Linked DNA regions of Homo sapiens. The protein of the gene in region 1 purifies or fractionates together with the protein of each later gene. This does not show direct contact. Each region holds a gene or a part of one and is shown in the gene's direction. Other genes may lie near its edges.

Region 1 (5,351 bases):
AACACCTAACTCAGTTGCATGGACTTGATCTTGCAAGCAGAGGTTTTTAGGGCAGGAGGTGATAGGATTATGATTAGGACCTGGATAAAGGAAGGCAGTGGGGGGTCTGGGGACACTGAATGCTCTGGACTGGCAACACAGAGGGCAAGGAGGCTGGCCACAGAGTTCTGAGGTAATTTGATGGGAGGTCAGCCACTCCCTGCAGCAGACCAGCATAGGTTCTGTCACCAGGCCTGGAAGGATGGGCAGGAAAGAACTATAGAGCCAGTCACAGCAGCCCACAGGCTCCCTGGGACACTCCCTAGAGGGGTGGGGACAGAGCAGTTCAGTCACAGAGAAGAACATAAGAATAACTCCAGAGTCTATTATTCCAAAATCACGCTTCTGTGTGTAATGCCTGATCCATCGGGGAGAAAAGACTGCAGGAGGCACAGAATCTGTTTTCCCAGCTTTGCTTCCCACAAGCATGACCCTGGGCAAGTCGCAGAACACCTGCAAATCCACATCTGTAAAGTGTCGAGTAGGGGACTGTGCTGTGCTGATGTCCTGAGCCACCCTGCCTGGTTGAGTGTGTTGACCTGGGTTGGGGGAAAAAGCCTTGGAATCAGATTTAAACTGCAGTTCCTCCCAGGTTGTCATGTTGTGTGACTGCAGAGGACAAAGCTTCACTCCCCAAAAGTCGGGCCGGGATGGAGCGCAGTGGCTCACGCCTGTAATCCCAGCACTTTGGGAGGCCAAGGCAGGCGGATCACAAGGTCAGGAGTTCAAGACCAGCCTGACCAACATGGTGAAACCCCGTCTCTACTAAAAATAAAAAAATTAGCTGGGCATGGTGGCGCACACCTGTAATCCCAGGTACTTGGGACGCTGAGGCAGGAGAATCACTTGAACCCAGGAGGCGGAGCTTGCAGTGAGCTGAGATCGCGCCACTGCACTCCAGCCTGGGAAACAGAGTGAGACTCTGTCTCAAAAAAAAAAAAAAAAAAAAAGTTGGGCCGGGAACAGTCCCCCTGCTCACCCTGTGCACAGCAGACCTTGTGCTCCCCAGTGGCCCACTGGGAGTTCAGGGTATGGGGGAAGGGAGCAAATTACTTGGTCTCCAAATCAGACAAATTCTCCACAGACAGTGTCCCTTGGCATAAAGCTCCTGAGAATGTCTCCTCTGGAAGGACAGTGTCATCTGAAAGCTCCTGGCCATTCAGGTCTCAACTTGGCAGCGGCAGCGTCTCCAATTTGGCCCTGAAGACCCACAGGCATTCAGAGCCCATGACTGTGGTTGGTGCTTGAGTCCAGAATGGGCAGCTCCCAAGTAGGGGGTTCTCCTTGGGGTTCACAGGCCTGGAGATCCCACAACCTTGTCAGTGGAGGAGGATGAGGTGGCCAGTCCCTCACCTTGGCAGCACTGCAGGGGGCGCCCGTGCTCTCAAGTCACACTGTCTCTCTCCCACACACATGCGGCGCTGTGCTGGAGGACGGTGGCGCGCTGAGCTTGTCTTACAGAGCATGCTTCTTTGGCTCAGCCTCACTGCTGCCACTCAAGTCCTTCCTCGTCACCAAATGCTTACCTGCATTTTTAAGGCCATCTACTCCACTTGAGAGTAAGTTCTATGAGGGCAGGGGCTTGTAAGCACATAGTAAGCATCTAGCAAATATCCATTGATTAAATAAATGAATGACTCTGTAAACCTCCCTCCACTGCTGACACCCCACTGATATGGGTCAGAAGTGGGGTCAGCAGTGGGGACGGGGTCAGGGATGTCTGTGGGGCATAGTTTTAGGATGAAAACCAGTGATTTGACACTTTGACATACCCACTTTTATGTGGCCAAGAAAAAATAATTGGGTTTTGGTGCCAGAACTCCTGTGGTCAGGAGCCACCACGCAGAGCCTAGGAGGCCCTGGCGCTGAATTGCCTCAGGATGGCTACAGAACACAGGACCCAGGGGTGGCCACAGGCGTAGAGCAGGCCTGGCTGCTGCTGGAAGTGCCCGTTTGAGACTGTAGTTAGCACCCTACACATCGTGGGCAGCCTGGAGCAGCCTGGCCCGGGAGGGAGATCCATGCCTTCCCACCTGCCTGACCTGACCCCATCCAGCTGAGGTACTGCTTCCCAGGCTGCAGACAGCAGCAGGTGTTCCAGACAGTGTGGCTCTCCACATGTGTGCCACATTCACCCCACCCTGGCCCAGAACCGCCCACGTGAACAGGCTTTTTTTTTTTTTTTTTTTTGAGACAGGGTCTAGCTCTGTTGCCCAGGCTGGAGTGCAGTGGTGCGATCATGGCTCTCTGCAGCCTCAGCCTCCCTAGTATACTGCTGGGACCACAGGCATGTGTCGCCACACCCAGCATTTTTTTTTTTTTTTTTTTTTTTGGTAGAGACAGGGTTTCACTATGTTGCCCAGGCTGGTGTCAAACTCCTAGGCTCAAGCGATTCTCCCACCTCAGCCTCCCAAAGTGCTGGGATTATATGCGTGAGCCACCATGCCCGGCCAAGACATTTTAACACAAACTTTTGTTAGCTGGACATGGTGGCACCAGTATTCCCAGCTACTCGGGAGGCTGAGGCAGGAGGATCGCTTGAGCCTGGGCAGTTGAGGCTGCAGTGAGCCATGATCACGCCACTGCACTCCAGCCTGGGCAACAGCGAGACCCAGTCTCAAAAAACAAAACAAAAAAAACAGACTTCTAGTTTTCACTTATTAACTTCACTAGTATTAAAGCTGAGGTAACTAACTCAGCCTACACAACCTTCAACACACACTACCTCTCACAAAGCACCTGAAGTGGTATTGTTGCATTTAGGGCTTGATGATTTGGAGTAAAAGACACTGATGTTACCGATTGTGCCTATTTTTATCAGTGGCTTGTTAATTATTTCTGTTTTCATTAGTGATTTTTATGTATGCAGATTGGTTAGCCATGAAACTGTTAGTCACTTCATTTCTGTTTCTTCCCTGTTGCAACAGCCCATCTTCGTGGGAAGAACCAAGCTTTAGGCTTGGCTCTGAACAGCCACAAAGTGACTTGGCTGAGGTCCTGCCATTTCGCTCATGCTCAGCAGGGGGCAGCAGACCAGGGCAGTTCAGAGTATGGGGTCAAACCCAGGTCCCTGTCCCCACTCCACCTGTGGATTTACCCTGGATTGGGCAAGCCCTTTAACTCTCTGAGGCTCCGTGTTCTCAGAGTGACTCGAGGATTCACTGAGGTGCCGTGTGAGAAGTGGGTGGCCCAGACCTGGACACAAAGAAGCCTTGATCAATGTTTGCAGTTTGATTAAGTGGGTAAATCTGCATATATAAAAATCACTAATGAAAACAAATAATTAACAAGCCACTGATAAAAATAGGCACAATCGGTAACATCAGTGTCTTTTACTCCAAATCATCAAGCCCTAAATGCAACAATACCACTTCTCCAGTTACCTCTTCAGTGAAACGGGAGGCACTCAGGCTCACCTCCAAGGACTTGGACTTGCTGTGATTTAATGGTGGACATTCCTCCTTACAGGGCCAGATCCCTGGAGCTGGAATCCAGGCTGCTTTGTCCCATTTTGAAATTTTCTTATTCAGAAGGTTCTGGAAAGCCAACAAATTGAGTTTGTGACAGAAATTGACATTAACTGGCTGGGTGTGGTTGCTCACACCTATAATCCCAACACTTTGGGAGGCTGAGACAGGAGGATCACTCGAGCCCAGGAGTTTGCAACCAGCTTGGGCAACATAGTGAGACCCCATCTGTACAAAACTTTTTTTTTTTCTTAATGGAGTCTCACTTTATCACCCAGGCTGGAGTGCAGTGAGGCGATCTGCAACTTCTGCCTCCCAAGTTCAGGCAGATCTCCTGCCTCAGCCTCCCAAGTAGCTGGGATTACAGGCACCTGCCACCAAGCCTGGCTAATTTTTGTATTTTTAGTAGAGATGGGGTTTCACCATGTTGGCCAGGCTGGTCTTGAATTCCTGACCTCAAGTGATCTGCCCACCTTGGCCTCCCAAAGTGCTACGTGAGCCACCACGCCTGACCTTCTACAAAAAACTTTTTAAAAATTTACCCAGGTTTGGTGGGGTGTGCCTGTAGTCCCAGCTACATGGGAGGCTGAGGCGGGAGGATCACCTGAGCCCAGGAGGTCAAGGCTGCAGCGAGTCATGATCGCACCACTGTACTCAGCCTGGGTGACAGAGCTCTTGCTCTGTCTCGCGGAGGGGAAAAAAAGAGAGAGAGAAAAAAGAAAATGACATTACCCAAGTCCAGTGAAGTATGTCGGAATTCCATCTTTGACACTAAGTAGCTGGGTAACCTTAAGCCAGTGGTCCTCCCACAGCCTACAACATCAGCATCACCTGGGAACTTGTTAGAGAAATGCAAACTCTTGGGCTTTGCCCCAGCCCCACTAAATGATGGTTCTGGGCGTAGAGCCCTCCAGGTGGTTGGGATGCCTGCTAGCTTGACAACCATGGCCTTAGGCAATTCATTGGAGCTCTTTGAACTGGAGTCCCCCCACCTGGAAAACAGGGGTGAGAATCCTGCCTACCTGCTGCCACTGTCGTGGGGAGGATTAGAAGAGACGACACACTGTAGAGTGCCCGCTGCCCGGTATGGGGAGGCCCCTCTTGCAGGAGCCCCTGCAGGAATCTTAAAGGTTTATCTTCCGTTTTCCCAGCATTTGGAGATGCTGAACGTTGATGCTTTTTGTTGCTTTCTCCCCTTCCTCATTTTATGGTTAGTGATTTAATGGTTTATTTGCTTTCTTGTGTGTTTTTCTCTCATTTTACATTTAGTGATTTTTTTTCATTTTTCTCTTTTGCAGATAAAGACTATTTCCTGATTGTGATTCAGAATCCAACCGAATAAGCCACTCTCTTGGCTCCCTGTGTCATTCCTTAATTTAATGCCCCCCAAGAATGTTAATGTCAATCATGTCAGTGGACTAGCACATGGCAGTCGCTTGGAACCCACTCACACCAATCCAGTGACCGTGTGTGGGCTGGCGGCTCTTCTCCCCCACCAACGGAACCCCTGTGTGCACCAACCTTCCCCAGAGCTCCGGAGCGCCCTCTCCTCACTTCCAGGTTTTGGAGCAAGAGCTTGCAGGAAGCCCGCACCCAGCTTCCTTCTGACCTTCAGTTCACTTTGTCGCCCTTGGAGAAAGCTGTTTTTCTTTAACTAAAAATAACCAAAATGCTTACCCGTCTGTTGTGTCTTTAAACACTAGGTTGAAAAGGCCTCACTCTTCCTGTGTAATCACACGTCGGAGGCCCGGTTGCCTCCTCCAGCCCTGGTGGGAGATGATGTTCATGGTGTCCGAGAGGCCTGCTGCTTCTTGTGCCTGTGGCCATACTTAGTGTAGCTTGGTG
Region 2 (4,425 bases), on another chromosome or scaffold:
TGGAATTCCAGAGGAGTGTACCTTGTGTGCACAGGAAACATAAAGGCTGGGGGATCACATCATGTGGAAAAAGCTCCTTTGCTTAGTGGGGCACAGCTGGAGTTGGGTTAGAGGGAAATAGGGAAAGCCTTCCTGAAAGGAGATGCCACTGAGCTGGATACTGAGGGATGTGGATGACTTGGCTGGACGGGGCAGGGGAGGGCTGGGCCTGTCAGGGAGGGAGGTGGCATAGGGATCCATTGGCTGAAGGCTGAAGGCCACAGAGGGACATGAGCTTACTGTGGACACAAGGTGCAGAGAGATGGGATGGGGATAATACAACCAGATGCCACAGTAGGCAAGGATGGCACCAGCCTGAGTGGACAGGGCTTCCTGGGAAGAGTCTGAATGACTTCTAGAACTGGCCTGGTGGGAACACTGATTGGAAGAGGAGATGAAGGAGGGAGGGTATTTACAAAGTTTTTCATGCTGGCACCACCATGCCAAGTAAGAGCAGGAGTCATACCACCTGGGCCCATATTCCCTCAGTCTTTCGAATATCAGAAAGTTGTCGTAGCTTCATTGAGTGAAAAAGTGACTGTTAATGTGCCATGCATTCCTCTAGATGCTAACAGTAGAAAAATGAAAACACTGCTCTCCTTGAATTTGAGAGTTCAATCTAGAGGGTCAGGCGTGCTTATGATGAGTGCCTCACCATGAAGTGAGACCAGTTCCAGGCTCCTGCAGGGGAGACTGAATGGAGGGTGGGCTGAGTGAAGTGGATGCCAGTCTTATGGAGCCATTCCTAGAACAAGCAGGTTCTCCACCTCTTGAGTTTGTGAGTTTCCCTCCCTGGATTTTTAAAATTCCCTCTTTAGTTATTCTGGGTTTTCATTTAAATAAACTGTAGGTGTCATTCATCTGGCACAGTCTTATTTACGTTTTTTCTTGCAGGAAATTGAAGAGCCATCCCTGGAGCCAGGTACTGTTAAATGAAAAACTTACCAGCGGGGGTTTGGAACCATTCTAGTTTTCCACCTTCTCTAATTTGAATTCTTTGATTTTTAAAAGTTACCTTACTATAGTATACATTGTTCTAAAGGTTTACAATCCAAAACCTACCAGGATCATAGAGATTGGAAACCCAGCCATATCACCAGATCTGTGAAAGTGGCTCACTTCTCATTTTACAAAATGTATTGGTGAGATGAAAGTATCTCATGCCTTTTTGAATATCAACAGCATTGAATCATACATAGAGAAAGAGTTCCAGATGCCTCTCTTGAGAGCTAATACCTCTGCACCCACAAAACAGATCTTGTGATATTGGGCAGTAGCTTAATTTTGTTGTTTTTAATTGAGGCAGCTCAGGTAGTGGTAGGGAGATACATTTTAAAACATAAATTTGAGACATAACTGGATTCCAGAAGAGGAAAGAGTGTCTTCATGAGAATTCCAAACACTGTTCACTTTCTGGACTGCAAATATCTCAGAGCACGGATGGAAGAGATTCTGGTTTTCATGTTGGACTGTTCTGTTAAAAGAAATTCAAAGAAATTTGGAAATTGAGCTGTTCAGTGAATGGTGATACATTCAGTTAAGCAACTTGGACTTTGGAAGCTAAATTTGGAAGAGTCATATCTAAACGACGACAGAATGAAGACTGTCAAGAATCAGCCAGAAGGTTTTGGGGGTTAAATCTCTGGGATGCTTTTCTCTTCCGTGTAGCGTAGAGGCTTACCTAGAGGCGGTCGCGGCGCAGGTAGTGTAACCAGTATAACTTTGTGTACCCGCGGGTTTTCCAATCTCTGTGTAGCTAGCAGTTCTCTTCGTGTTAGTGTGGCAGCCGTGCCAGTTCCACATTTGTGATTGCTTTATTTCCCTGGTAATTAAACCTTGTGCCATTCTATTCCTGTTAAATCCGTAGAAAATGAGAAAATACTCGACATTTTGGGGGAAACTTGTAAATCTGAGCCAGTAAAAGAAGAAAGTTCCGAGCTGGAGCAGCCATTTGCACAGGACACAAGTAGCGTGGGGCCAGACAGAAAGCTTGCGGAGGAAGAGGACCTATTTGACAGCGCCCATCCGGAAGAGGGTGATTTAGATTTGGCCAGCGAGTCAACAGCACACGCTCAGTCGAGCAAGGCAGACAGCCTGTTAGCGGTAGTGAAAAGGGAGCCCGCGGAGCAGCCAGGCGATGGCGAGAGGACGGACTGTGAGCCTGTAGGGCTAGAGCCGGCAGTTGAGCAGAGTAGTGCGGCCTCCGAGCTCGCGGAGGCCTCTAGCGAGGAGCTCGCAGAAGCACCCACGGAAGCCCCAAGCCCAGAAGCCAGAGATAGCAAAGAAGACGGGAGGAAGTTTGATTTTGACGCTTGTAATGAAGTCCCTCCGGCTCCTAAAGAGTCCTCAACCAGTGAGGGCGCTGATCAGAAAATGAGGTTTGTTTTTTCTCAGTTTTAGACCAGACGCTATCTCCTTTTCATTGGTCATGTAATGACACACATAAGCTGTTTTTTTCTGCAATTGGCCAGCCAGACTGACGAAATTGTAGTTTTGCTTCTAAAGAATGTTTCGTTTCTCTTTGTGTGTTTTTAATGGGTGATTCAATTCCTTTTCTTTTTCTCAACCTACCATGGTTGTGTTCTTAAATTCTTCCTAATTACCTTTAGCCCAGCAGAATTAATTAACTCCTGTGGGTCTGAAATCTTATGGTTAGGTCAGATTTTCAATACAAGTTTGTCGGGGTATCATTTTTTCAGAACTAAATTTCGGGTAGGTATGCAACCTCAGCACGAATTTTATGGTTTTGAGTTTGTTTCCTCCATGCTGCTTCCTTGTGGAGTGACATTGTCTTTTGTCTCTAGTTCTCCCGAAGATGACTCGGATACAAAAAGGCTTTCCAAAGAGGAAAAGGGTAGGTCACCTCGGCGACACCAGTCCCTTGGAGCATGTATGGCCTGGGCAGTGGCGGGTATTTGATTCTGGTTCATCGCGTGCTATGCTCCTTACCCAGGAGACTCCTGAGACGTTTGTGCAGTCTTTCTCCTTCTCTGCTGTTACCGCTACAGGTTCTGGGTTGTAGGAAGCATACCAGGTCCTAAGAGTTAACAGGCTGATTTGGTGCAGATCCTTGTGTTGGGAGCACATTCATCCTGTAACCCTTCATTAAATGCATTAACTGAGAAATAATTTTACCCTACCAAATTCCTTCTTAATCAGTGTTCTAAAGGAGTAAAAACATGGGATAGATACAGAGCTATACGTGGAAAGAGAAACAGTGCATTGTTGACACCAAGGTTGACTGTTCTGCTACATGGCCGTTGCACACTGCACTTCCTCCTGTAATTAAGCGATCGCTAACTTTTTTTGAGACAGAGTCTTGTTCTGTTGCCCAGGCTGGAGTGCAGTGGCGCGATCTCAGCTCACTGCAACCTCTGACTCCCGGGTTCTAGAGATTCTCCTGCCTCAGCCTCCTGAGTAGCTGGGATTATAAGCGCCCGCCACCACACCCAGCTGATTTTTTGTATTTTTAGTAGACATGGGGTTTCACCATGTTGGCCAGGCTGGTCTCGAACTCTTGACCTCGTGATTCGCCCACCTCAGCCTCCCAAAGTGCTGGGATTACAGGCGTGAGCCACCACACCCGGCCCGCAATTGCTAACTTTCTTAGGAAACCTCACATTGTCCCAATAGCCCCACTCAGTATTGTGACGGGCCCTGTGGTAGTGCTGCTGGGCCTGGTGTTGCACTGGAGGCTCTTGGTGAGGATAGTGGTCAGGCCCACAGCCCCATTTGGCTTTTAGTGCTGCCACTGCCTCAGGAAAAATGGGAACCATGTCTCTTTTGGAAAGGTTGTCTCTAAGACTCAAGATCTTGTGGGTATTTGGGTTTTTACTAGAATTTTCTTTTGAAATAGGTCGCAGCAGTTGTGGTAGAAATTTCTGGGTTAGTGGACTCTCTTCTACAACCAGAGCTACAGATTTGAAGAATCTTTTCAGCAAATATGGGAAGGTAAGTGCCAGAGCTTTTCTGGAGAAGATACTTTGAAACCAGCGTTGTGTGGCCTTTACATGGAGGTCCTCTCCCCTCAGTGAGTTCTTTGAGAGATACCAAGGAGCTTACACTTGCTAATGGCTGGGGAGGGTCTGCCCGTCCACAGGTAGAGGTGAGAGTGGTGTGGAAGCTTCCAGAGCCCACATCACCACTGTATTTCCCTCCCTTCTCTGCGAGCTTGCCCCCTTCCCTGTGATGGCTCGTGGATCCATTTCTGTGTCCTCAGGACGTCGCACTCAGGCTGGGCTGCCAGGGTTGGCTGGTGGGGTGCTGGTCAGCATGTCTGGGAGACAGCAGTGTTCTTAGAACAGTGTTCGTGATGCTGGAACTCAGAACTCAGAACAGGGACCCTGGAGTCTGATGATAGGGGTCCTCACCACGGGTGTCTTGGGT

The links.
Region 2: the proteins of DYNLRB1 (region 1) and SAFB fractionate together in Homo sapiens (co-fractionation; one large-scale study listed by BioGRID). This does not show direct contact.

What each region holds. Positions count from the first base shown.
Region 1 is NC_000020.11:34,535,777-34,541,127, forward strand, and holds the end of DYNLRB1 (dynein light chain roadblock-type 1), read left to right. Parts: intron 1-4,657; coding exon of another isoform or gene 4,658-4,680; exon of another isoform or gene 4,681-4,716; intron 4,717-4,804; coding exon 4,805-4,848; 3' UTR 4,849-5,182; downstream 5,183-5,351. UniProt on the Homo sapiens protein: Acts as one of several non-catalytic accessory components of the cytoplasmic dynein 1 complex that are thought to be involved in linking dynein to cargos and to adapter proteins that regulate dynein function.
Region 2 is NC_000019.10:5,647,083-5,651,507, forward strand, and holds part of SAFB (scaffold attachment factor B1), read left to right. Parts: intron 1-933; coding exon 934-961; intron 962-1,906; coding exon 1,907-2,417; intron 2,418-2,843; coding exon 2,844-2,893; intron 2,894-3,895; coding exon 3,896-3,990; intron 3,991-4,425. UniProt on the Homo sapiens protein: Binds to scaffold/matrix attachment region (S/MAR) DNA and forms a molecular assembly point to allow the formation of a 'transcriptosomal' complex (consisting of SR proteins and RNA polymerase II) coupling transcription and RNA processing.